Linked DNA regions of Homo sapiens: all the other regions are linked to region 2. Evidence: fine-mapped expression QTL. A gene starts in region 2. Each other region holds a variant in brackets. All regions are shown on one strand. Distances are between the middles of the regions.

The links.
Region 1: its variant is fine-mapped to the expression of RBM38 in whole blood (TOPMed, PIP 0.97).
Region 3: its variant is fine-mapped to the expression of RBM38 in monocytes (Quach 2016, PIP 0.95).

Annotation. Positions count from the first base shown.
Region 1 is chr20:57,410,730-57,418,902 of GRCh38, reverse strand. No RefSeq gene overlaps it. Among named protein-coding and RNA genes, the nearest start is that of RBM38-AS1, 22 kb to the right of the region's middle. RefSeq lists enhancers at 2,676-3,444, 3,506-3,650, 3,556-3,850, 3,445-4,212, 4,213-4,982 and 2 more and cis regulatory regions at 3,554, 3,543-3,562. The variant A/G (reference allele first, on the strand shown) is at 3,554.
Region 2 is chr20:57,387,459-57,395,631 of GRCh38, reverse strand. It overlaps RBM38 (RNA binding motif protein 38), which reads right to left and starts at 4,236. Exons shown (of 4, transcript NM_017495.6): 1 at 3,814-4,236; 2 at 2,855-2,978; 3 at 2,299-2,353. The coding sequence starts at 4,050. RBM38-AS1 (RBM38 antisense RNA 1) reads left to right here and starts at 2,576. Exons shown (of 2, transcript NR_149006.1): 1 at 2,576-3,353. RefSeq lists enhancers at 2,574-2,763, 3,518-4,017, 4,018-4,519 and silencers at 3,614-3,803, 4,154-4,553, 6,164-6,543.
Region 3 is chr20:57,421,043-57,429,215 of GRCh38, reverse strand. No RefSeq gene overlaps it. Among named protein-coding and RNA genes, the nearest start is that of RBM38-AS1, 32 kb to the right of the region's middle. The variant CTG/G (reference allele first, on the strand shown) is at 3,570.

The DNA.
Region 1 (8,173 bases), 23 kb before region 2:
CCTGAAAGGAAAACAAACGTGAATTCTTCATCCAACTACAGACAGCAGAGTCTGTTTTCACTGCCGAAGAAACTAAACAGAAAAGTAAAGAAAAAATAGAAACATTTTAAAAAGAAAAGAAACTAAACACAGAGCTTCTTTTATTCTCAGGCCAGGCTTTGCCTTAGTATCAGTCAGAAGCGCTTAAAAAAATACTCATGCCAGGCGCTTCTCCCAAAGACTGGGTTCCGGGTGGGGCACAGGCAGCATTGCTTTTAGCAGCTCCTGCAGCTCAGTTCTCAGGTGCAGCCAGGGCTGGAAGCCCTGATAACAGGATTGCTCTGCGGCAGGGCTGCAAGGAGCCTTCTCAGGTCATGGTCACGAAGATGCGGCTGTGGCTTTGGGCGGGGTCTGAGAGTCCGGTCGAGGTTGGAGGCAGTGAGCAAGGGGATGCTATTGGTATTAACACCAGTCCAGCGAGATCCCAAGATCCTCAGAGCTGGGGGTGGGGAGGTGGGGAACCCATCGAGTCTCCCGAGCGATTAACCAGCTCAACACAAAGGGCCCGGAAGCAGAGAGGGCACTTTCTCAGGGCAGGGTTGATAGGACCGTAGCAGCAGCACGGATCCTAATAAAGGTGGGCCCACCTTCAACTTCTCCCTCAAACCTGGCCCTAAGTGCTTGTTCTACTTCGTGTTCTAGGAGGCACTACAAAGTATTATTATTTCCTTTCTATTAATGAGGAAACTGAGGATCAGAGAAGGTGAGTGACTTACCTAAGGTCACACAGCTTGTCAGGAAAGAAACTCAGATTCACATTCAGGTCTGATTCCAAACACTTGAATTATTAACCCTTGTGCTAGATCATCCCCTGAGGCAAAGCTAACTCTGCTGGAGTAGAAGGGCTGGCACATGCCACAACATGGATGAACTTTGAAAACCTGATGCAAAATAAAAGAAGCCAAACCCCCAAGATCACATATTGCATGGACATTCTTAAGAAATGTCCAGAATAGGCAAATCCATAGAATGTGGATTATTATTCTATTATTATTATTATCTAGTATTATTATTTCCTTTCTAATAATGAGGAAACTGAAGATCAGAGAAGGTGAGTGACTTACCTAAGGTCACACAGCTTGTCAGGAAAGAAACTCAGATTCACATTCAGGTCTGATTCCAAACACTTGAATGATTAACCCTTGTACCAGACCATCCCCTGAGGCAAAGCTAACTCTGCTGGAGTAGGGACCAAGGTTGAAGATATCTCTATCTTTCCATTCATCCCCCCATCCATCCCTTCCTTTATCCATCACTCCCTCCCTCCCTCCATTTCATCTTCCATCAATCCTCCCAATCACCCTCCCTCCCTCCATCCATTCCCCATCCATTTCTCCATTCATGTATCCATCAATCCTCCCATTCACACTCCTTCCCTCTATCCGTTTCTCCATTCATCTGTCCATCAATCCTCCCATTCACCCTCCCTCCCTCCATCCATTCCCCAACCATTTCTCCATGCATATATCCATCTATCCTCCCATTCACCCTCCATCCATACATCTCTATCCATTCCTCCACCCATTCTTTTTCCCTTTCTTCAGTCCCTCCCTCCCTCCATCTGTCACATAATTGCATAACTGTCCTCTAGAAAGACGTCAAGGGGGATAAAGCACGTGTGTACACGGTTCCTGCTTCCTCCTCTACTTGGCTCTCCTGTGACTCCTAACCGACAAGTTAAAATGCCTGCCAGGGTTCAATGAGAGGCACAGTAAAGATTGGTGGGGACTGGAGCAAACTGGAGAGCACGGGTGTCACTGCTGCTGTGAGGAACTCTGGGCCCAGCATTGTGAGAAGCTTCTGTTCATGGTGGCTTTTTTCCTTCCACCGTACTCTGTGGCCATCTCTCCGTGTCGGGAAATAGACTTCCACAGTATCATTCTTAGTGGCTCTGTGGCCTTTCTCCCTGTGGCCACACCAGAATACAGGTCATTGTCTCCTCCCATGGAGACCCCAGCTGCAGGTTAGGAGGGCAGCTTTGGCATCAGATCCCCCGGGGTTTGGAGCCCAGCTCTGCCAGCTACTCACTGTGTGACCCTGGGAAAACTCCCTGACTAGCCTGAGCCTCAGTGTCTGCATCTATAAAGTGGGTTGTTGTGTGGATTTGATGAGCCCATGCTGCTGAGTGGTGGGCACAGGGCCTGGCACAAGCCCAGTGCTGGATAAGTTCAGGCTTCTCTGCCCTGCCCACCCTGAGGATGAGGACTACAGCTCCCCACGCCCCCGGTTACCTTGCAGGCTTTTGCTAAACCTCAGCTTGAGATTCAGGACTGTGGCCTTCATGGGCCACACCTCCACCTAGGCCTGTGGGAGCCAAGCAGCCTTTGGTGACGTTCCGCTCTCCCGTGGTTCAGGAGGGCTTGTGCTTGCAAGCTGGGCAGAGGCTGTCCACACCTGCGCAGGGCGAGCCATCCCAGGGCACGCTGGCTGCTGGGGAGCACGGTCCTGCCACTGCGTGGGAGGGTAGGAACCCCAGGCTCAGCCCATTTCCCAGGAGCGAGGTTGTCAGGCCCAGGGAGGAGGAAGAAGAGGCAGCCCAGACTCATGCCTAGGACGCTCTGAGGCCAGGCCCTTATCCCAGAGACAGCTGCTTGGAAAGAAAAACAAATGAGAGAACAAGGATGGGGTTGGAGGTGATAGCTTAGATAGGGAGGTCCCAGAAGGCATCTCCAAGGCTGACATTTGAGTTAGGGTTCAGGGACAACAAGGAGAGAGTGACTCCCTCCATCTCTCTCTCTCTCTCTCAGGATCAGACAGGTGGCAGGGCCAGTTCGCCCTGGCCGTGGAGGCTGTGCAAGGAAGTGGGATTTAGTGGAGAGTCACAGAGGGCTTGTATTGTGTGATTGTGTGTGTGCCGGGAAACTGGGTTCTGAGTCACACGGTTGAAGACAGAGCGGGTTCCCATAGACAAGCGCCTGGACCCCAACCCCACCCCGCTGCAGGCTCAGGCCTATCAGAGAAACCCAGAAAGTCAGCAGAAGAGAGGGGCACAGACACCACCCACTGGAACCTCTGGAGCGTCTGGAGTGCGCACACACAGATGCAAGAGCAAATGACCAAACGCCAAGCCTCATTCGCTGGCTTTCATTTCTCAGCTGTGAAAAATAGAGAGCCGTGTTAAGAAAAAATAAAAGCCTCCTGTCCTCCTACGACCATTAACACCTGGTCTCTTTCCTTCCACTCCTTTTTATACACATATGCAGATTATTTTAATAAATTAAAGGAAATAGTCACATTTTCCCCCCAACAGTCTTAATTTTATAATTTAGAAAAAAAGATCTTTATTTTAATTTCTCTAAAAACGCCCCCATCACTGGAGCAGGGAGCCAGCAGGAGGCACCCGGGAACCCTCTGAGTTGTTTCTGCTGCACCAGGCTCAGCTGTCTGGTGGGCCGGGCTGTGGGCGGAGGGTGGTTCACCCCATCATGATCTCCAGGCCACCGTGCACCCCAATGTGTACACCAGGACTTGAGGCGGGAGCAGGCAGGGCAACGGGGCTGATAAGCAGAGCCAG[A/G]CACTTATCGGCCCCTGCGGGAGGCCCAGGAGGTATCTGGAAGCCCAGGTGCCCACCCCAGGCTGTGCCCTATGCAACACCCAGCCTCGGGGCACGCTGGAGAGCTGCCCCTGTTATTCGCTCAGCATCTGGAGGGCTCCCAACCTCCTGCCCAGGGGGCTCCTGGTTGGATGTTTACGTCTCTGGGGAACAAACACAAGTGTGACTCAGCAGCCAGGGCAGGGGTGGGGAGGACGCCCGGCTGACTTTGGCTGAGGAAGGTGGAGGATGGGTGCGGTGGCCAGAACCCAGTCCTCAGGGTGCAGCGGCGTGTGGCTCCAGGTTCAGGATGCATGGGTCCAACCCCCAGCTCTGCCCTGGCCCTGCCACTGTCCAGCTCTCTGGCCTGGAGCAGGCGGCCAAATCTGCTCAGCTTTGGTTTTCCCATCTGTGAAATGGGCACAGTCAACTTCTCACAGGCTGCTGGGAGAGTTTAGGGAAATGACAGGTGTAAAGCCATGGCAGGTCTCCAATAAATGCCAGTTTTCATGCATTCTGGGGCTTTGAGGACAACCTCGGTTCCAGAGGTGGGGAGACTGAAGCAGGAGGGTTTGTCTTGTTGGATTGGCAGCATGGGTCCGTCATCCTCAGGCAGCACCCTGAAAAACAGCGGGTGGCCTTCCAGGAATCAGGGGTCTTCTCAAACCCACCCTCCATCGCTTCGCTTACCCTGCTAGCAGTGGGGGCTGAGGGCTCCCTGAGGGGCGCCTACTCCACACCAGGGCTGCACGGGGCACCTTACCTAACTCATCCCCTGTAATCCCGGCCACAGCCCTGGGAGGCAGGACCTTGGTTATTAACCCATTTCTAGGTGATGTAACCGTGGCTCAGTCAGTCACCTGAGGTGGCCGGAACATCCGGGCTCAGTCAATCGCCTGAGGTGGCCCAAGCATCCAGCCCCTCCTGCTGCCCCTTGTTGGCCCTGCCTGCAGCTGGCCCAGGCTGGGGGTCTGCACCCCTGAAGGAGGCATGGGTGGGGCTTAGGAGACAGGACTGAGCCCTGGTCAAGGTGTTCCACGCAAGCTCCCCAGAGGCCACATAGCCAAAGACCAACAACACAGGCTTTGGAGGCAGACCGACCCGGGCCCGAAGCCTGGATGGGTCAGCTATTCCTCACCAGGCCACCTCCCCGCTCTGAGCCTGTCTTCCCCTCTGTAAAATGGGACCATGACTCCACTCCTCGTGGGAGGATGCTAAGGAGAAGGAACCAAGCCAGCACACTGGAGCACATCAGAGGGCACCTCCTGGTGGCCCCAGGCCCAGCTCCCACTCAAGGACCATGAATGCGAAGGCACCTTGGGCCGCCGGTCCTGTAGGAACGTGGGCAGCCATGTCCGATGAGAACTGTTTGCCAAACTTCCAACACCTCACTGAGGCAGAAGCTCGAGCTGTCCTCCTGGAACTGCCCCTAAGGAACCAGGTGACCTCAGGCCATGTGCAGTGAGCGCTCTGAGCCGCGATCTCCCCCTGGGTGAAATGGGCATAAGGATAGACCCAGCGCACCCCACTGGTGTGAAGGTAAAGAGGTAACAGGCTTGGTCAGTAACAGTCTCCATAAAGCACGTATGAATGGGACATGACTCTCATGGACTCAAAGCTTACTGCTGGAAGGACCTGAGGCAGAAACTGCAAGTTGTCTGCATAAGGACATTCCCGTGTCTTCCTTGGTAGCAGAAGGCTTTCTGTGTTCCAGGTAGCTATATCCCCAGCTAAACACCGACATTCCCCACCATCCCTTGCAGTTAAGTATGGCCATGTGACTAAGTTCTGGCCAACGAAATGGAAGAGGAATGTTGTGTGCAACTTCTGGGAAGTCTCCTCGAGAAGTCTCGGCTTGAGATACTCTAGCCTTCCCCTTTCTTTCTTCTGCTGCCTGGCACTTGAACATGATGGCTGGAGCTCCAGCAGCCATCTTGGTCCCCAAGATGGTCTTAAGGAAGGAAGCCATGCATTGAAATGGTTCACTGGGATGATGGAAGGGGCCTAAGCTCCTGATGACTGTGGAGCTGTCATCCAAGTCCTGGACTGCCTGCTTCAGACTTATTTTACATGAGAAAAATAAATGCATTACAGGTAGCTAAGAACCACCCTAATTTTGGACTTTCTATTGCAGTTGCTGAACCTAATTCTAAGTAATGCCAGCCCTTTGAGGTTGTATATGTCCAGAGTCTTGGTTGCCAGGGACAAAAAAATCAAATCAAATAGGCTTAAGTAAAAGGGGGAAAGTATTAGCTCTCAAATTAAAAAGGTCCAGGATCTAACTTCAGGCATAGCTGGATCAAAAGCCCCCAGAGATGTCCCCAAGACCCTATCTCTGCTCCTCTCTCCTCCTCAGCTCTCCTTTCTCCTGGGCTGGCTTCCTTCTCAGGCAGCCTCTCCATAAGCACAAACTCCTCTCTGCCCCCAGCTGCTTCAGGCTTATCTGCTCCCAGCTTGGCTTCCTCAGCAGAGGGACAGCTTTCCTCCCCCAGGAGGACTGACTCGCATGGACCCACACTGGGTCACACGTCTATCCCTGAACCATTCTGAGGGTCCAGGGGAGTAGAATATGCTGACTATTTGAGCTGCAGAGCCAGGGGTAGAGGTGGCTCCATTGAACCACCTGGCCTGAGGGTGGTGCGGGGGCAGCTCCCTAAGGAAAAGCAGGTGCTGTCACCAGGAAGGGAGTGGATGCTGGGCCGGCAGGACCTGCGGGGCTACCCAGGGGTCAGCTCAATGCATGCAGGGAAGAAGGTGAGGTTCAAGGAGGATGGCAACCAGGCAAGCTCCCCACCAGGGCAGAGCAGAGCAAGCCAGGGCTGTGACACGGAGGTGACCTCACCATTGTGTGGCTTCTTCTCGTGGGCTGCGGTGGCTGTGGTTCCCACACCTTGTCCCAGCCCAGTCCCTCTGTGATTACACCCCCAGAAGGGGAGTGACAGCCCAATGGCCTTGGAGAGCCCCTTTTTCCTCTCTGGGCCTCAGTTTGCTCAACTGGAAAGTGGCATGAAAATGGGGCTCTAAGGGAAGCACCTCTCACTCACCACTGCCCCTCCCCAGCAAGAAGTCTCCAAATCAATGCCATGGGGCGGGGTGGGGTCTCAGGCCCCTCTGGATCCTGCGTGCCTCTCCCAGCCCCCAGCTGGCTCACACAGCAGCCACGTGCCCCGGAAGTTGCGCTCAGCCTCTGCTCCCAGGCCTGGTCCTCTTGCCTGCTTGGAGGGTGACAGCTCAGAGGTGGATCAACCTGTGGGCAAAGCCCGCCTAGTGGGATGGCCCTGGCTGCACTGCTGAGGCTCTCTGGGCTTTGTCAGCTCCTTGAAGAAGGGGAAGCAGGCGCTTCTCCAGGCCCCACAGGACTTGGGCACCCCACTCCCGGGGACGTTGAGTGCCTGGCCCACGCTGCCGTCGTTGAGGTCTCTCACGGCCGTCTCAGCTGGGTGTGCAAACCCCACAGGCAGCTGCTTCAGGAGGGGATCCCTGGAAGCACAGCAGGGGATCGAGGACGTGAGGCAGTGAAGAGAAGGGGGAGTCATGGACTCAGGGCACCAGCGCAGGGCACACACCCCAGAGTGACTGCCGAGGGTGGCAAGGGAGGGGCGTCTATCCCCTAACTGCCCTCTGGCCTGCTGAGGGCTGCCCTGGGGTGTTAGCTCCCCGGCCCTTCCTGCCTGCCTGTGCACTGGCCGAGCCTGGGCCAATGTCCAGACAGAAACCTTTTCGAGGACTAGGGGGCTGGCAATGAGCGGTCTTCCCCCGCGCCAAAGGACACTGGCAGCCAACATCTGCCGCCCAGCCAAGTGAGCGGCCAGGTACGGCAACTCCCTCACTGTGCCCGTCTCTTCTCCCCCCGAGTCCTCCGGCCTGGACCTGCTCCACTTCCCTCTCTCCCAAGCCAATGAACCCTCAAAACCATGGCTGCTGCCCCCCGCAACACCCTCACTTGTTGTGGAGCCAAACGATGGGGGTGGGTCTTGTACTGTCACTCAACACGTGTGTGCACATGTGTGTCTGGGTGCACATATGTGTGTATCTTTGTGTAGGTACATGGGGTGTGTGCACGTCTATCTCCACATGTATATATGTGTGTGCACATCTGTGTGTGCCTTGAAGGTAATTTTGTGTGCAAGCGTATCTCCGTGTGCATGTGCATGTACTGTGTGGGAGCCAGGGTGTGTACGTGTGTATGTGTGATGGTGTGTCTGAGTGTGTGTCTGTTTCTCTGTGTGCATGTATCTCTGAATATCGAGTGGGAGTGTGTGTGTAGCACATACATGTTTGTGCTAATGTGTCTGTGGATGCATGTCCATGTGGATATGTGTATCTATGCACAGGTATGCCTGTATCAGTGTGTGTGTGTGTGTCTATGTGTCTGTGCATATGGGGGTCTGGGATAATGTGTGTTAACGTGTATACATACACAAACATACATCTGCATGCATGTGTGTATGACATCTGGCCCTCTGGGCACAGGCCTGTGCCGGCTGCTAGGAACACAGTGGGTAGGACAGAAAGTCCCTGCCTTGGGAGGACACTTGCGACCGTCTTGCACAGTGAGGCTCAAGGCCGGGGAGGACCTGGCTGGGCTCAGCCTGCATGTCT
Region 2 (8,173 bases):
CGCGATTCTCAGAGGCTTGAGTTCAGATCTCCCAGGAAGCCAAGAGCGGATGGCCCCTCTGACACCGTCCCTGTTTGGGTCTCCACCCTTTGGCAACCAACAAATAGAGTCTGCGGCCTCTTCATCGTCACAAGTATTAAATGGCCAGCCAGCAGATTTAGTTACAAAACACCGTCGCCTGAAGTCGGGGGCACACAGTGGCAAACTCTGTGACCGATCCCAACTGCTTCTGGATGGGTGGTGTTCACAGGACTCCAGGACAGCAAGGGAAAGGTCGGGCCAGGGCCCTTCCCACCGTCCCCCACCAAGAAAGCATGCGTTCAGGCACCCACCACCTGTGTTCCAATCTCCTCCCGGACGTCTATTACCTCACGCCTCCCCACCCTGGCCCTGCCACCCGCCCCCAGGCCCAGACAGGTGGTTAGCCTTTCTCTGCCTCAGTTTCCCCATCTATAAAGTAAGAATGGTTTCAGTCCCATCCTCAGAGGCCTGCTATGAGGACAGGAGAGGACTTCTGAGGAGGCCAGAGCACCCAGCCCACATGCCTGTGCACTGTTTTAAGCAGTTAATGTTCCTGTTTTCCGGATGAGGATGCCACTGCCAAGACAGACCCAGCTGGTAAGGGGCAAAGTCAGGATTCGAACCCACCTCTGCAGGCCCCAGAGGCCAAGCACTGATGGGTATGGAGTCCCAGAGGTAGCTGTGTGGATCAGAGCGAGCCCAGACGCACGTGGGAAGGCCTTATCCCACTGTAAGCAGAAAAGAGCTGCAGGCACTGGAGGCACACACCCTCACCTCTGGGCAGCTGCTCCCGCCCAGTCCATGCCCCCAGGCGCCTGCTGTGGGCCTGGGGAATGGAGCCAAGGTTCTGGAAAACAAGGAACACCCTCTTCATGTGGCCTGAACCCCATAGGAAGAATCTCGGTGAAGGCATGAAGGCTACAGTGTCCCCAAACACCCTCTAAGACGACTCTAGACATCTACAAAACAGATTCCAGGACGAGACGGACAGGGCCGCCTGCTCCCACCACCCTACACGCTCCCTTCCCAGGAGGACAGAGGCACCCCGGCAGGAACCTGAGCTGCCCGGCCACTCGCACAGGCTAGAAGGGCCCCGGCCACCCTCCAGCACCCCTCAGCCAGCGGCTCCTCCCACTGCTACACTTGCACACATCCACCAATACACACGGAAGCCGGCAGGGAGCCCCCGAGTCACCCCAAGCGTTCCCAAAAAGTGGGCACAGCAACTTCTGCTGGGGCCTCTGACCCATTCACCTGGGAGCCAGGCCCCAGGGGACCCATTCACCTGGGAGCCAGGCTCAGCCGGGTTCCACAGGATCCTTGTCCACACTGCCCCAGTCAGGCAGGTTACTCCTCAAGCTGTGTCTCTCTCAATGGAATCTACGTGGTGCGCACATGCGTGAGCACACACACGTGATCAACTGGCATTAGGGATTTGGATTCAGAAAGTTCATGAAGTGCCAATGCCCTGAAAGGGGTGGTGGTCTCTGAGCTGCCTTCCCCTCCAACTCCAACCCCATCAATATGCCACGGCGCTAGGGCAGACAGCTTCCATCCATCATGGGGGTGGGGAGGCAGGCCGCAAGGCAGGACTCTTTGTATCCCTTAAGTGTGTGTGTCCCTCCCCAAGCAGCTGCCAGGACTTACTAGATGTTTTAAAAAAGGGCAGGGAGGTGGGAGGCGTTTTAGGATGGAGAAGAGTGGGCTGCGCTGCTTGTAAATGAGTCAGACTAGAAGCCCATAGGCCAGGCCACTCAGGCAGGTGGCCTCCACCCCAAACACATCGTATCTACAGCAACGTTCACAAACATCAGACCTTGGTAGCAATGACCTACTGCCACCACCTGCCCCAGCACTAGAACAGGTGAGAGGAGTGCCTGGGGAAGAACTCAGCCTGCCAGTCCCTAAGAGTCATCAGCAAACACTTCAAGAGGGCGTTACCTGCACCAGGCCCACCCTAGGCCCTCCATTCAGAGAACTCAGATGTGCTGTGACCACTCCCATTTTACGGGTGAGGAAACTGAGGCCACACACCTAGCGAAGGGAGCTGGGGTGTGTACCAAGGCAGGCAGGCTCCAAGGCTCACCATCCCCTAGGTGGTATGGCCTCTGCCAGGGATGGAGAAGTGCAATCTGCCTTCTCTTCACTCCCTTGGCTTAAACGCAATCAAATGTCTGAAAACTGTCATTTCCCCAGCCTTCCAGACCCAGGAAGCCCAAGGCCCTCTCCACTTCATCTCCACGGACTACCCACCCCAAGCCAGCCATGTCCACTCACCCGTAAGTCCGCTGGATCAAGGTGGGGTGCAGCTGCTGCACCCCAATGGCAAAGCCTAAAACGAGAGAACAATCAGGGACTTGGCCTTGCTGCACGAGCCACGTCTCAAGGGCTGCACACAGGGTGGCAGAATCCCACAAGCCACACACCTCTAGTCAAAAGGGATCATCCGCTTCCTCTCCCCTCCCAGGCCTCCCCCTTGTGAACCCCAAGGCACACCGCTGAAGTGTGGCAGTGAGTGACGCAGGTGTCAGCAGCCACTGGTGTCGGCACTCCCAACCTCCAGGCCCCATGGCCACTTCCTCCCTCCTGCGAGGACAGCTGGCAACTGGGGTGCAGTACCCTCCCTGCCCCCCGCCCCCTTCTTTGGGCCACACGCTGTGAGAAGGGGTCTAGATCCTCGAGGGGGGGATGGCTGCCCTGTGCCGGCTCTGCAGGCACATGATAGCCGACTGCCACTGCTGGGGCGAGGAGGGGGGGCCTCTTTCCACCCGACAGATACCGACACCCAATATAGAAACCGAGAAGAGCCAGGCAGGAAAACACAAGCTCTCACCCGTCTGGAGGCTCCGCGGCTTGGCGCCCAGATATGCCAGGTTCACGTTGGCCTTGCGGCCGTCGATGATGGGGTTCGGGTCTTTGCAAGCCCTCTCAGCTGCCGCCCGGTCGGCCATGGTCACCTGGTGGAGCAGAGACACATCAGGGGCTGCCGTGGGGGGAACCAGGGGCGAAAGGGGCAGACGGCTCCGCCCTGGCACCGGATGCTGCCACCCCTCTCTTCCCTTCCTCTGAGGGTGCCTGTGACCCAGGGTCCTTGAGCCAAAGCTCCTCTGAACCCTACCTGGGGCTCTCCCACAAAGATGCCTCCTGGATTCCAGCTCCTCCCGTCAAAGTTCAAGGCCTGGGAAATGTGGCCTTCAAGGACAAAAATAATCCCCTGCGGGGATAGGGCAAAAATGAACCCCGAAGGGAGCTTGGGGGGCCGCCTGGACTTGCCCACCAGTGAGGGCCGAGACTTTCCTCTGAGAAGGAGTTTGCGACGCTATGCTTGGAAGGTAAGCAGGAAAGTGTCTTCAAGACGTTTTTACTTAAGCTGATGTTTATTTGGGGCGGCTGAGAGGGCTGTTAAAAATATGGGGGAGGCCGAAGAGCTCCTAACACCCCGGGGTGGAGCCATTGCTCCTCACCCCCCGCTGCTCCAGGAAATCCCGAGTGCCCTCTGGCTCCAAAACCTCCCCACCAACTTAGGAGTCCTAATTGAACACAGCGGCTCTTCCTTTTAAACCGGGGGTGGGGGTGGGGGTGGGGGTGGGGGTGGGGGCCGGGGCCTGGGGTGGTGGGGGCGGGACCGGCAGGAGCGCGCCCGGGAGAGGCGGCAGGTGCGGGCGCCGGCTGGAGGCGCCTGGGGCGGGGGCGGCAGCGGGCCGTCTGGGCGTGTGCCCCGGAGTGGACTCGGCGCCCGGGCCGCGATAAGGTGTGCGGCGGGGTGCGGGCCCGGGCGCGGGGGCCACTTACGAAGCCGTAGCCGCGGGACTTGCCCGTCTGGCGGTCGGTGATGACCACGGCCTCCTCGATGTCGCCGAAGCCCTCGAAGTACTTCCTGAGCGAGGCGTCGGTAGTGTGGTACGGCAGGCCGCCCACGAAGATCTTGGTGAACGTGGTGTCCTTCTGCGAGCCGTGCATGGCGCCGGGGGCGGCCAGGGGCCGCGGGAAGCCCGCGCTCGGGGCGCACGGCGCGGGCTGCAGCAGCATGGGGGGCGCCCCGCCGCCTACGGACCCGGGCCGCGCGGGGCTGCGCTCATGGGGGGCGGCGGGGAGCGCGCGGGGCAGCGAGGGGCGCCCGTCCAGCCGCCAGGCCCGACCACTCCGGCGCCCGTCCCGCCGTGCGCGCCGACGTGCGCCGCGCTGCGCTCCCGACCGGCGCTGCGGGGACTCTGCGCCCCGGCACCGCCCCCGGGCTTTGTAGCCTGCCGCCCCCGCCAGCTCAGCCCCGCCCCCAGCCGGCCCCGCCCCGCCCCGGGCGCGCGGGGACCGCCGGGAAGCGTAGTTCTAACCCCGCCCAGCCGCACCCGGGCGCGCGGCGATTGGGGGGAGGGGGGAGGGGAGCGCACGCGGGCTGAGGGCGGATCCGGGCCTGGGGGCGCTGGGCGCGCCTTTCTCTCCTGGCTGCCCCCGCGGGCCCGGCCGGTTGCAGGCACTAAGCACAACCCTGAACTAGGGAGGCCAGGCCCCTTCCCTCGTGGAGCGCACCGTCTGGTGAATTAAACGTAAAAAACGTAAAAAAACGTAAACGGTTTTTAGCATCTTGTTAATTGAGTCGGTATTTAACCCAGGGCGACTTAGGGAAGAGCCACGTGCCATATTAAAAAAGGGAAATGATTTCTGTTTTATATGTAAGATTAGTTCATCCGACCGATATTTACTCTGGGCGCGAGGCTGCAGCGGAGCACAGATCATATTCCCTGGCCCCACGGAGCGTCCAGGACTGAGAATTCGGCTAGTAAACATACAGCATACGACCCCGGAGGGAGCTACACCACGGTGCCGCGATAGAAGCGGGTCCCGGGCGGTCTCAGAGGCCCCGCGGGAGATGAGGTGGGCAGAGGAAGCAGGTGTGGGCTCTTTCCAGCTCCACCCCGTTCTGGGCTGGTGTCAGGGACCCTTGGGGCGAGTAAGAGCAGACCCGGGTCCCTCATCCGGCCCCCAGCCATAGAAAGGCGGCGCATAGTGGGGCTCTGTGAGCTTCACACCAGGCAGGGCCAGCCACAGAATTTTCGGGGCCCAGTGCAAAATGCAAACGCGGGGCCCCTTATTCAAAAGCTAGGAATTTCAAGTTGGCAGCGGTTGAGCATGAAACTCAGCCCCGGGCTTTCCTGAGCGAAGGGAAGGGCCGTGTGACTGCACAGACCCCGGGATCCCGGACCTGCGGGTCACACCCTCCACCTCTGAAGCCGGGACTAGGGGCCTCAAGCCCGCCTCATCTCCAGCCCCCGCGGTTGGGACCTATGCAGCTGGGAAACAGCAGCTCTAATTGGGGTCACTCCCGGCCCCAGCCCTGCGGCCTCCTCTCAGCACAGGGCGACGCAGGTGGGGTCTGTGGGGACTGGGAGTGGCACTCCGTGGGCTGTGGGGGACCGCAAGGCCGGCGAGGAGTTCCCCTCGTTTCCTCCAGCACCGAGGAGTTCTCCGCGTTTCCTCCAGCCCTCTGCCCTGGCTGCCGGCGGGGAGGAGTCTGCCCGCCCCCTCCCCCACTCCACGGCCCACGCTCCACGCGGCAGCCTTGACCTCTGACCTCTCCCTCCCCCAGCTCCCGCTCTAGCCCTCTGCACAGTGGGGATGGGACCCCCGAGTCTTCCGGAAGCCTGGGCGTCCTTTCCTCCCTTCCCCCTTCGTTCCTCGTTCCTGGCGCTCCTGCCCCCGCTTGCGGCCCCCGTTGCCCTTCATCCCGCGTGGTTTCCTCTCCTTCCTTCGCGGAGTTTCCCACCTCCCCGGCCCTGTGTGTTCGCCTGCCTGGAGCCCCTCCCCTGCTATTTGGGCGCTGCGAGAACAGGGACCTGGGATGTTTTGCCCAAGCTGGAGGGCCTGGCAAGGAGAGGGCTCTGGGATATGTTTGTTGAGTGTATCCACGATGGAACAAGGTGGGGTGGGGGAAAGCTCTGGCCCAGCCGGAGGCCCTTCGAAGCGACTTTGAAAACTTTCATTTAAGTGTGACCTTCACTTGCCCCCTAGAGGCCGGGGGAGGCGGCCACTGCGCGGCCGCGTGCTTTTGCGCCAGCTGGATCCCTTCACCAGGCCTCGGTTTCCCCTTCAGTTTTTCCAAGGCTGTCCCCAGCCGTCGCGTTGCCTGGGCAGGCTGGAGCCGCGTCGGTGGCGTGGCCACGGGCTTCAGCCCGGAGGCGCCCGGGCTCCCGGCCTACAAGTCCCAGCGCCGCCCGGGCCCGCCTCGCCCGCGCCCCTCCCGGCACGACAGCCCCACAAAGGGGTGCGGCCGCTCGGCTGCTGCCGCGGGGGCCGGGCCCAGGCGGCAGGGCAGCCCCGGGGCCTCTGCCTGCCCGGAAGGGGGCGGGACAGGGCCGTGGAGGCTGGAGACGCGGTTGCCCAGGTGCGGGTCCAGTCGCACTCCTTCGCCCCCCGCCCCCGGGCCCCCTTGGGTATCTGGATCACCAATCCCTCCCCCCCTCCGGCGGCCCCATGTCTCCACGGGTCACCAGCTTCTGCCTGACAATCAGTCATTCACCCAAACACACACTTTTTTTTTTTTTTTTTTTGAGACAAGGTCTCTCCCTGTCGCTGGAGTGTAGCGATCATAGCTCATTGCAGCCTCGACCTCTCGGGCTCCAAGCCATCCTCCTACCTCAGCCTCCCAAGTAACTGGGATTACCGGTGCGTACTACGATGCCGGGATAATTTTATATTTTGTGTAGAGGCTGGTCTCGAACTCTTGGGATTAGGCAATCTTCCTGACTTGGCCTCCCAAATTGCTGGGATTACAGGCTGAGCCACTGCACCCAGCCTCAAACACACATTTATGTGCACCACTGCACTCCAGCCTGGGCGACAGAGCAAGACTCCGTCTCAAAAAAAAAAAAAAACTACAGTCTCATCAGCGCCACTACTTGACCTTGTTGTTGAACGCATTGATGAAGAAGACATTGCTTGTCTACATTGCTACATCACATATTTGTTTTTTAAATATTTTCATAGCCGTTTTTATTTGTTTTAATTAGAGATGGGGTCTCTCTATGTCGCCCAGGCTGATACAGAACTCCTGGGCTCAGTTGATCCTCTTGCCTCAGCCTCCTGAGTAGCTGGGACTTCAGGTGCATGCCAACACACCCAGCCTATATTTTAATGTGATTGTTTTCCTTTGCTAATCTAAGCATTTTATTTGTTATTATTATTTTTTATAAAGACAGGGTCTTGCTGTGTTGTCCGGGCTGGAGTGCAGTGGTGTGATCATAGCTCCCTGCAGTCTCAGCCTCCCGAGTAGCTGGAACCACAGGCATGCGCCCAGCTGATTTTTTAAATTTTTTTTTGTAGAGTCAAGGTCTCCCTTTATTGTCTAGGCTGGTCTCAAACTCCTAGCCTCAAGCAACCCTCCCACCTCCGCCTCCCAAAGCACCGGGATTACAAGTGTGAGCCACCGTGCCTGGCTGGTAAGCATTTTAAGTGTTTAATACTATTACCTTAGGTATCAGCTGACTGCCAAGGGTTCCATGGCCCACAAAGGGCCCCTGGAAAGGGAACACAGTTTTGTGAGACTAGGCTGGGAGCCAGGCTGGGCAGAGGTGACTTGGGTCCCTCAGGCCTCACTGGGGAGCGGGAGGGAGGACTGGCAACTGTGTGTGCTGGGTGAGAAAATGGAAATTGCAGGAGCTTGGAACGCAGAATTCCTGCTCAGTGTGAGGATGAGCCCAGCACTTTCTGTGTGTTATCTTAGTTCATCTCACAAAAGCCCTAGGAAGAGATGACTACGATGATGCCCATTATATAGCTGAGGAAACTGATGCTCAGAGAGGTCCTCTCCTGCCTCCCTCGCAAATGTGTGATGTGTGCAGGGCACAAATGCAGAACTGCCTGGCCTAGGCCTGCTCTCTGCTCCCAGCTGTGGCTCCAGCTGCCCTGCAGAGGAGGGAGAGTGAGTTTACCCTGATGAGGATGTGCAGAGAGGAGCAGGTGAGGCCGGCCACTGCGATCTGAAACAGCACAGCCCCATCCAGGCAGGGCTCTGGTTTGAGTCTTCAGGCCCCGCGCTCTTGGGCCTCCTCTTTTTGTTTGTCGTGTTGGTGTTTATATCAAGGCTCTTCGGGGACTCAGCTTTGGGCTGAGCTTGGTGCAGGTGGCCTGTACACCCCCAGCCTGCAGCCCAGCTCCT
Region 3 (8,173 bases), 34 kb before region 2:
CATCCTTCCCCAGCGACACAGTTTAGGCGGCTGGGGGTGGGGCAAGGCAGCACGTTCAGCAGCTGGATCCTGGCCTGTGTCCTTGAGTCACCGAGGGTAGCACCAGGCTGGTGCCCAACGGCACGACTGTGCCTCATTTGTGATGCAAATGGCTGGCAGTGGCCACGGATGGGCGAGGGCACAGCATCCTCAGCCAGGACCCCGGGAGCTTTTATTCTGAGCAGAGCTCAGGGAGAGGAGGAGGGGGAGGCTGCCTCCCCAACCAGCCCCAAGGGATCTTTCTGAGTGGGGCAGGGGGCAGCAGGGACCCCGAAGCAGGAGTGACACATTCCTGGCAGCCGACAGGGAGGGCTGGGGCCACTGGAATGAATAGGAAAACGTTGGCTGGCAGAGGGCTCAGTCCTGCTGGAACCCAAGGGTCATCTCGCCAGGCTTGCCCTCTGGACTCCTGAGAGACCAAGGCCACATTATGTCATACCTGGCACTTCCTGGTCCGGCCTGTTGGGCCTCCAGCCTCTCCTGGATCCCCTGCCAAGCTGCAGTCACACAGAACTCTCCCGGCTCTTTGCCACCTCGAAGCTTTTCCGCGGCTGTTCCCCCTGCCTGGAAGAAGGTTCCTGTCATCAGCGCCAGTCTTTCTTTCAGTGTTAGCTCACATGGGGTTCACCCTGAGGCTGTCCAAGTTTTAGCTTAGGGGAAAGGCCCTGGCCCTAATTCTGTACATGTAACTGTATCTCTTTTTCTTAAAGATTGTGTCCAAAATTGACATAATTTCAGGCTTTGAAAAACCTGAGCCTGGGCCAGGCGCAGTGGCTCACGCCTATAATCCCAGCACTTTGGGGAGGCCGAGGCGGGTGGATCACTTGAGGTCAGGAGTTTGAGACTAGCCTCGCCAACATGGAGAAATCTTGCCTCTACTAAAAATACAAAAAAAAAAAAAAGAAAAAAAAAGAAATTAGCTGCTGTGCTGGTGGGTGCCTGTAATCCCAGCTACTTGGGAGACTGAGGCACAAGAATCACTTGAACCCGGGAGGTGGAGGTTGCAGTGAGCTGAGATTGTGCCACTGCACTCCAGCCTGGGTAACAGAGCAAGACTCCGTCTCAAAAAAAAAAAAAAAAAACAAAACAAAAAAAAACAAACTAAACTAAAAAAACAAAAACCTGAGTCTGTCCCCAGTGGTGGGAAAATGTCCCCTGACATCTTCCTCCTGAGCTGCTGAATCACTGAACAGGTCACATGCCTTAAGGCGGTTCATTCATTCAGCAGCTATTTACTGAGCAGCTATTATGTATTGGGGACTTGCCTAGGTACTGGGGAAAGAGCTGCAAATAAGACAGACAGAATGCCTGCCACCTGGATTCACATTCCTTGGGGGGACCGGCAATCCACACACACATAAATGACACACAAGCAACAAGTGAGCAGCACCTAGAGCAAGCAAAGGCCAGGAGGAGTGACAAGGGCTATGGTGAAAAGTCAAGCAGGCCGGGGAGAGGGGCTGCAACTTGAACCAAGCAGCCAGTGAGATGAAGAGACCTGCAGGAGGTAAGAGGTGAGCCGTGTGGACACCTAAGGGAAGAACATTCAGGCTGAGGGAACTGCACGTGCAAAGGGCCTGAGGCAGGGACGCTGCCTGGGCAGGCTCAGCACTTCACTGTGGCATTTATCAGACTGAAGTTAAACATTATTCCAGAGATTACTTACATGGCTTTTTTATTTTTAAGAGACAAGGTCTCGCTCTGTCACCCAGGTTAGAGTGCGGTGGTGCAATCATAGCTCACTGCAGCCTGGAACTCCTGGGCTCAAGTGATCCTCCTGCCTCGGCCTCCCGAGTAGCTAGGACTGCAGGCATGCACCATGATGCCCAGCTAAATGACTTATATCTTTGTCTTCTCACCAGGACCTTGTATTTGGTTGGTGTTCAATAAGTAAATGGGGAAAGATTGGTTGAATGAATGTGTTTAGAGGGAGAGGTTGGGGCTGGTGAAGTTGTCAGAGGCGCCCACCCTGCAGCATGACCAGCTCCTGCTGGAACAGATGACGCTGTTTCTAACCCCCTCCCCCACAGGCCCACTGTCTCCATTCATGCCGTGGAGGCCTTGCTGTGGGGTGGGTAGCAGTGAGGTGGGTGCTGTGATGGTCAGTAGGGACCCGGGGAGGTGGCTCAGGACTGCACACTGGAAGGAGGCTCCCTTCCCCGACCTTCCCAGGGGCCAGAGCTCTGCAGCTGCCTGCAGGTAGAGACCTTGGTGTGGACACTGGTGTCCTGGGATGGGGGCCCCAGGCAGCCTTCTCCAGAGCCTTGGGGTAGCAGGCACAGGCGAGTGAGAGCATAGTGGGAAGAGGGCAGGGAAGACACACAGTGGCTTCCAAGGACCCACGGTGACTTCCGAGGACCCACAGTGGCTTCTGAGGCTGGTTTGGAGGCCTAGGGGATCCCCCTTGGGAGACTCTAGAAATAACAGTGAAACCACGTCAGGAGGCACAGGTCCTGCTGGGTCACTGAATTTGGGGAAAAATTCAGGAAAGTGTGGCCTGAGATCCAGTGTCTCTGCATCCCACCATGCCCTCCTGGGGGTGCTGTGGGAGGACTAAGGAGGAAGGTGCAGATGAAATGACGGCCCACAGATGGGCTCACTGCTGAGGTGATGCCGACAGACCAGCACATGTGACTGTGTTCCAGGTGAGCCTGAAAGAGCTCCTGCCTCCATCGCTGGGGATGGGAACGCCCACCCCACCTGCCCCATGCACGCCACAGATAGCACGCAGCTGACGGCAAAGAAAGAGCAAGCCCCGTGTGTGCTAAGGGGCCTGGTCAAGATGCATTTAGTGGGAAAGAGACAGGTGCCGTGCAGAGCAAATGGCCTGTGCTCGAAGCGGGGAAGAGTAAACATCCATCTGTGCAGACCTCAGTGTCCCCAGCTGGAGGTGCTGCACGCCTCGGGAGAAGAGAATTGGAAGGGACAGGATGGGAGGGAGACTTTCCACGACAGTCTCCTGGATCCTATCAATACCTAGGGAATTGAAGCTGGGCTCATTCTCTGTGTTGAAATGCCACCACCGGGCCAGGCAAGGGGGCTCATGCCTGTAATCCCAGCTCTTAGGGAGGCAGAGGCGGGAAAACAGCTTGGGCCCAGGAGTTCAAAACCTGCCTGGGCAATATAGCGAGACCCCGTTCTAAAAAATAAAAATTGAAATGCCACCACCATTAGCAGCAGGAAGCTGATGTCTGAAGGCTGGATAGCTCAGAGGCTAGGGTGCAAAGCAGGGGATATGGAGTCCATCTCAGTGGGACCTATCTGTCCTCCCCCTTCTCACGAAGCCAACCATCCCAGCACCCACTTCTCCACCAAGAACAATGGTGCTCCCCCTCCTCTGGGAGCGGAAGGGCGCAGGGTGTGGTGGAGGCAGTCTGCAGCGCCCGGGTGCTAGGGGGGAGATCCGGGGAGGTCTCAAGTACTCTGTGGAAGACTGGGTGCAAGTGAGACTGGAAGTCACGCTAGGATGGTCTCCGTGTCAAGTGCAGCTGTGCTGGGGGAGGGGAGGAAGTTGCCAGGAGTCAGGACCC[CTG/G]TTTCCAACCCCCAGAGAGTTGCCACTCCAAAGCCGCCAGCAGTGTCTGTGTTGTAAGAGGGTGGGAGGATATGAAGTCATGCGGCCCCATCTGGGCCCCTCCCCAGCTGGCAGCCTCAGCCTCCACTCCCTGACCACGCTCCTGCCCTCCCGGCCTCCCTGCAGTTCCTCAGCGTAGCCGAGCATGTCCAACCTCCAGGCATTTGCACAGGCCACCACCTCCTCCGCAATGCTCTTCCCCTGTGCCTTACTGTGGGACCTCTCCCCAGGCTCTGCTGGCCCTGCCTCCCACCTGGCCCCTCCTGACCCTCCAGTATCCTACCTGCCCGTTTCCTTCACAGCCCTCCTCACACTCTGTAACTCAGTGCTGAGCAGTGAGTTCCCAGAGGACAGTAGCCACGCCCAGCTTCTCACTGCTTCCCTGCTGCTTCCCCCCACCCCCAGAGGAGCAGCTCAGGTGTCATTTGTGGAAAGAACAAAAGGAGACTCTTTGGGGCTTAATGCACTGTCATTTAGGGGGGAAATATTGAGTGGTTATGAGGCTTATCAAAGGGAGAGCCAGAGTCCAACCCAGGATGGAGAGTTTTAGAACAAAAAAAATAGGCCAGGCGCGGTGGCTCACGCCTGTAATCTCAGCACTTTGGGAGGCTGAGATGGGTGGATCACGAGGTCAGGAGATTGTAGACCAGCCTGGCTAACACGGTGAAACCCTGTCTCTACTAAAAATACAAAAAATTAGCCGGGCGTGGTGGCGGCGCCTGTAGTCCCAGCTACTCGGGAGGCTGAGGCAGGAGAATGATGTGAACCTGGGTGGCAGAGCCTGCAGTGAGCTGAGATGGCGCCACTGCACTCCAGCCTGCGCGACACAGCAAGACTCCGTCTCAAAAAAACAAAACAAAACAAAACAAAACAAAACAAAAAAACAAAAAGACTGCCCTGCATGATAAAAAGGGTTAAATTTGTTTTAGGGGCCAATGGAAGCAAGTTATATTTTCTTTCCTGTGGACTAACCCAGAGTGGGAAAGCCAGGGGCACCTGTAGAGCCTTGGCACAGAACCAACACTGGCTGAGAATGGTGAGAATATAAGTCCTTATAACAGTGTCTAAGCTGCTGGATTCAGTCATTCCTGCCAGAACTTTATAGCCGCATGAGCCAATCCAGTCCAACCATTCTCCAGGAAGGGTCAGCCAGTCCAGGTGGAGCTGTTCCCGGGTTCCCTACCAAATGACAGAAACCCCAAGTCAAACTGCTGGGGTGGACAGAATAATGACCCCAAGACATCCATGTCCTAATCTCTGGAACTCGTAAATAAGTCATATGGCAAAAGAACTTTGCAGATGTGATTAAGGTTATAAACCTCCAGATAGGGAGATGATGTCTGGATTATACAGGTGGGACCAATCTAATCCCATAAACCCGTGAAGGCAGCGAACTTTCTCCAGCTGGAGGCAGAGACCGGTGGGTAGCAAAAGGGAAGCTGCAGAGATTGAGTGTGAGAGGCGCTCACCTGCTGTTGCTGGTGGGGCCACGTGGAAAGTGCAGGAACGGTCCAGGCGCGGTGGCTCACGCCTGTAATCCCAGCACTTTGGGAGGCCGAGGTGGGTGGATCTCCTGAGGTCAGGAGTTCAAGACCAGCCTGGCCAACATGGCGAACTCCTGTCTCTACTAAAAATACAAAAATTAACCAGGCATGGTGGCGCACACCTGTAGTCCCAGTTACTTAGGAGGTTGAGGCAGGAGAATTGTTTGAACCCAGGAGGTGGAGGCAGTGAGCTGCAATGCCACCACTGCCCTCCAGCTTGAGTGACAGAGTGAGACTCCATCTTAACAAAAAAAAAAAAAAAAGAAAAGAAAAAGAAAAAGGAAAACGAAAGTGCAGGAAGGAACCTGGCAGTCCCCCAGGGCAAAGACCTGCCCCAGCTCCCAGCCAGCAAGGAAGGGAGACCTGAGTCCTACAAATGCAAGGAACTGAATTCAGCCAGCAACTGAATGAGGCTGGAAGTAGATTCTTCCCCAGAGCCACCAGTAAGTAATCCAGCACCACCAACACCTTGATTTCAGCCTCAAGAGACCTCAAGCCAAGGTCCCTTTTGGGGCATGACCTACAAAATTGTGACATAATGGATAAGTGGGGTTTTTTTTTGTTTTGTTTTTGTTTTTGTTTTTGTGTTTTTGAGACAGAGTTTTGCTCTTGTTGCCCAGGCTGGAGTACAATGGCACGATCTTGGTTCACCGCAACCTCCGCCTCCCAGGTTCAAGCAATTCTCCTGCCTCAGCCTCCTGAGTAGCTGGGACTACAGGCATGCACCATCACACCCTGCTAATTTTGTATTTCTAGTAGTGATGGGGTTTCTCCATGTTGGTCAGGCTGGTCTCAAACTCCCGACCTCAGGTGATCTGCCTGCCTTGGCCTCCCAAAGTGCTGGGATTACAGGCGTGAGCCACCATGCCTGGCCAGATAAGTGTTTTTTTAAGCCACTAAGTTGGTGATAAGTTGATAATAGAAAATCAAGACACTAGTTTAATGAAAAAAGAGAACTGACTTGCTCTCTCACTGGTCTGGCTTCAGGAATGGCTGGATCCAGCAGCTTAAACACTGTCACCGGGACTTGGTTTCTCTGTTTCCCACACCTGCTATCCCCCAAACTAGCCTCATGCTCAGGGTCCATAGGGTCATCCTGGCAGCTTCAGACTCTAACCCCCCAGGTTAATGTCCATGGAAAAGGGGTCCTGCCTCTCTCCCAGCCACCCCAGCATAAACTTTATGGTATCTCATTGGCTCTAACTGGATGATGTGCCCATTCCTGAGTTCATTACTGAGGCCAGTGGCATCCAATGTTCTTATTGGCCAGGCCTGGGCCTCACGCCCACCCCCATAGGGCCAGGGGTAGAACTGGACTCACCTGAGACCCAGGGACCTGGAGTAGAGAAGGGAGAGTTCCCCCAAGGAAAACCTGGGCACAGTTCCAGGCTGTCTGGTAATTGGCCTCGGAAGCCCCAGTGCAGAGGGCCAGGGAGTCTATTCTCGAATTTTCCTTGTCTTACTTTCCGGAGGGAAGGCACTCTGTGAGGTGACCTGGGTGGAGCAGCACCCCCATAATCGGACACTGCACCCCATCCCCCACTGTGCCTTTAGCCGAGCCTGCCACAGTCTCCTGTCCCAGGGCCACATTTCCAAAATTGTACACTAGCAAGCAGGAAACCTTTGCTCCTTGGAAGCATGCTTTGCTGAGAATCAGAGTAAATAAACTGGTATTTATACCACGACCCCACGGGGTGGCTGTTTTTCTCTGAGGCAAATATGGTCAAAATTGAACCTTGTGGCCCTTGAAGGAGAGCAAGGCTGTCCCAAGAGGATCTCAGAGGGAGGCCTCCACATCCTACCCTCGCACGGGCATCTCTGAACTCTACTGGAAGACTCCCCAGGAGCAGGGAACAGGGGAGGGGGCCTGGCTGCACCCCCACAGGCCTTTCCCAGGGCAGCTCCAGGCAGGGCCCAAGTCTGTGTCTGCAGCATTCCTATCCCCCAGTGCACTGTCTCATGAGGACTCACCCGACGCAGGTGACTGTGGGTGGCAGATGCTGCTTCGGCTGACTTTGAAGCTTGGAAGGTCGTTTAATTTAAATTCTCTAGAATTCACATGAGCAGCAACTATTGTAAGTTCCCTACTTTGTGCCAGACACTGGACGGGCGGCTGGGCACTGTCATGGATGGGTCGGAAACACCCTTGCCTCCTGAGTTCACGTTCAGGAAGGAGGCAGATGTTAAAATGAGCAAATGAATAAATGCACTGAGTGGCACAAACCCTGAGAAGCGCTTGGAGGAGGCAGGCAGTGTCAGAGGGTGGGTGGAGGAGGGCACTACATCAACACCTGCAGGGAGGTGCTCCAGGCAGTGGACACGGTATGTGCGAAGGCCCCGCGGTGGGAAGGAGTTTCAGCAGGGCCACCTGTGCACTCAGGACTCCTCATGCATCATTCCTTCCGCAGACATTTATTGAGTGCCAAGTGCATGCCAGGCAGGGTGCCGGGCACTGGAGTGACAATGGTGGTGAGCAGAGCCTGGCCTGGCCCTGAGCCCCTGGAGCTCACAGTCTAGCAGGGCAGACAGACCCCAATCACATCACCCTGGAACCTCTTTCGTTTCTGGTGAGTATTGGCTGGAGAAGCGCTGGACACGGCCCCGTGGCGGTTTCCCTGGCCTCTCCATGGCATCTCCTCTCTCCGAGGAGGCGGCCCCTCCTGGAAGGACCAGCTTCAGGGTGAGGTTAGGGGCAGCACGGCTCCCGGGCCACCTCCCGCAGAGTGCAACCTGGCTGGGTCAGCGGCTCTGGAAGGAGCTGGGACCAGGGCTGTTTCCTTCCCTCCAGAGCCCCACACAGGGTGGGTCCCAGCTAGGGATCATCTTCCCCTCTCCTCCACCTGCACTCATTCCACAGGCAGTCTCTGCCGGCTGAGGGTGGTGACAACCTCTGTTTGCTGGAGATGCCTGGAGTGGTCTCTGGGGGCTCTCTCTCCCCTCAGCACACCGGAGGGCTGCACCTCCCGCCCTTAGGAGGTGAGGTTTGGCCGTATGACTGGCTCTGATAACACGTGGGCTG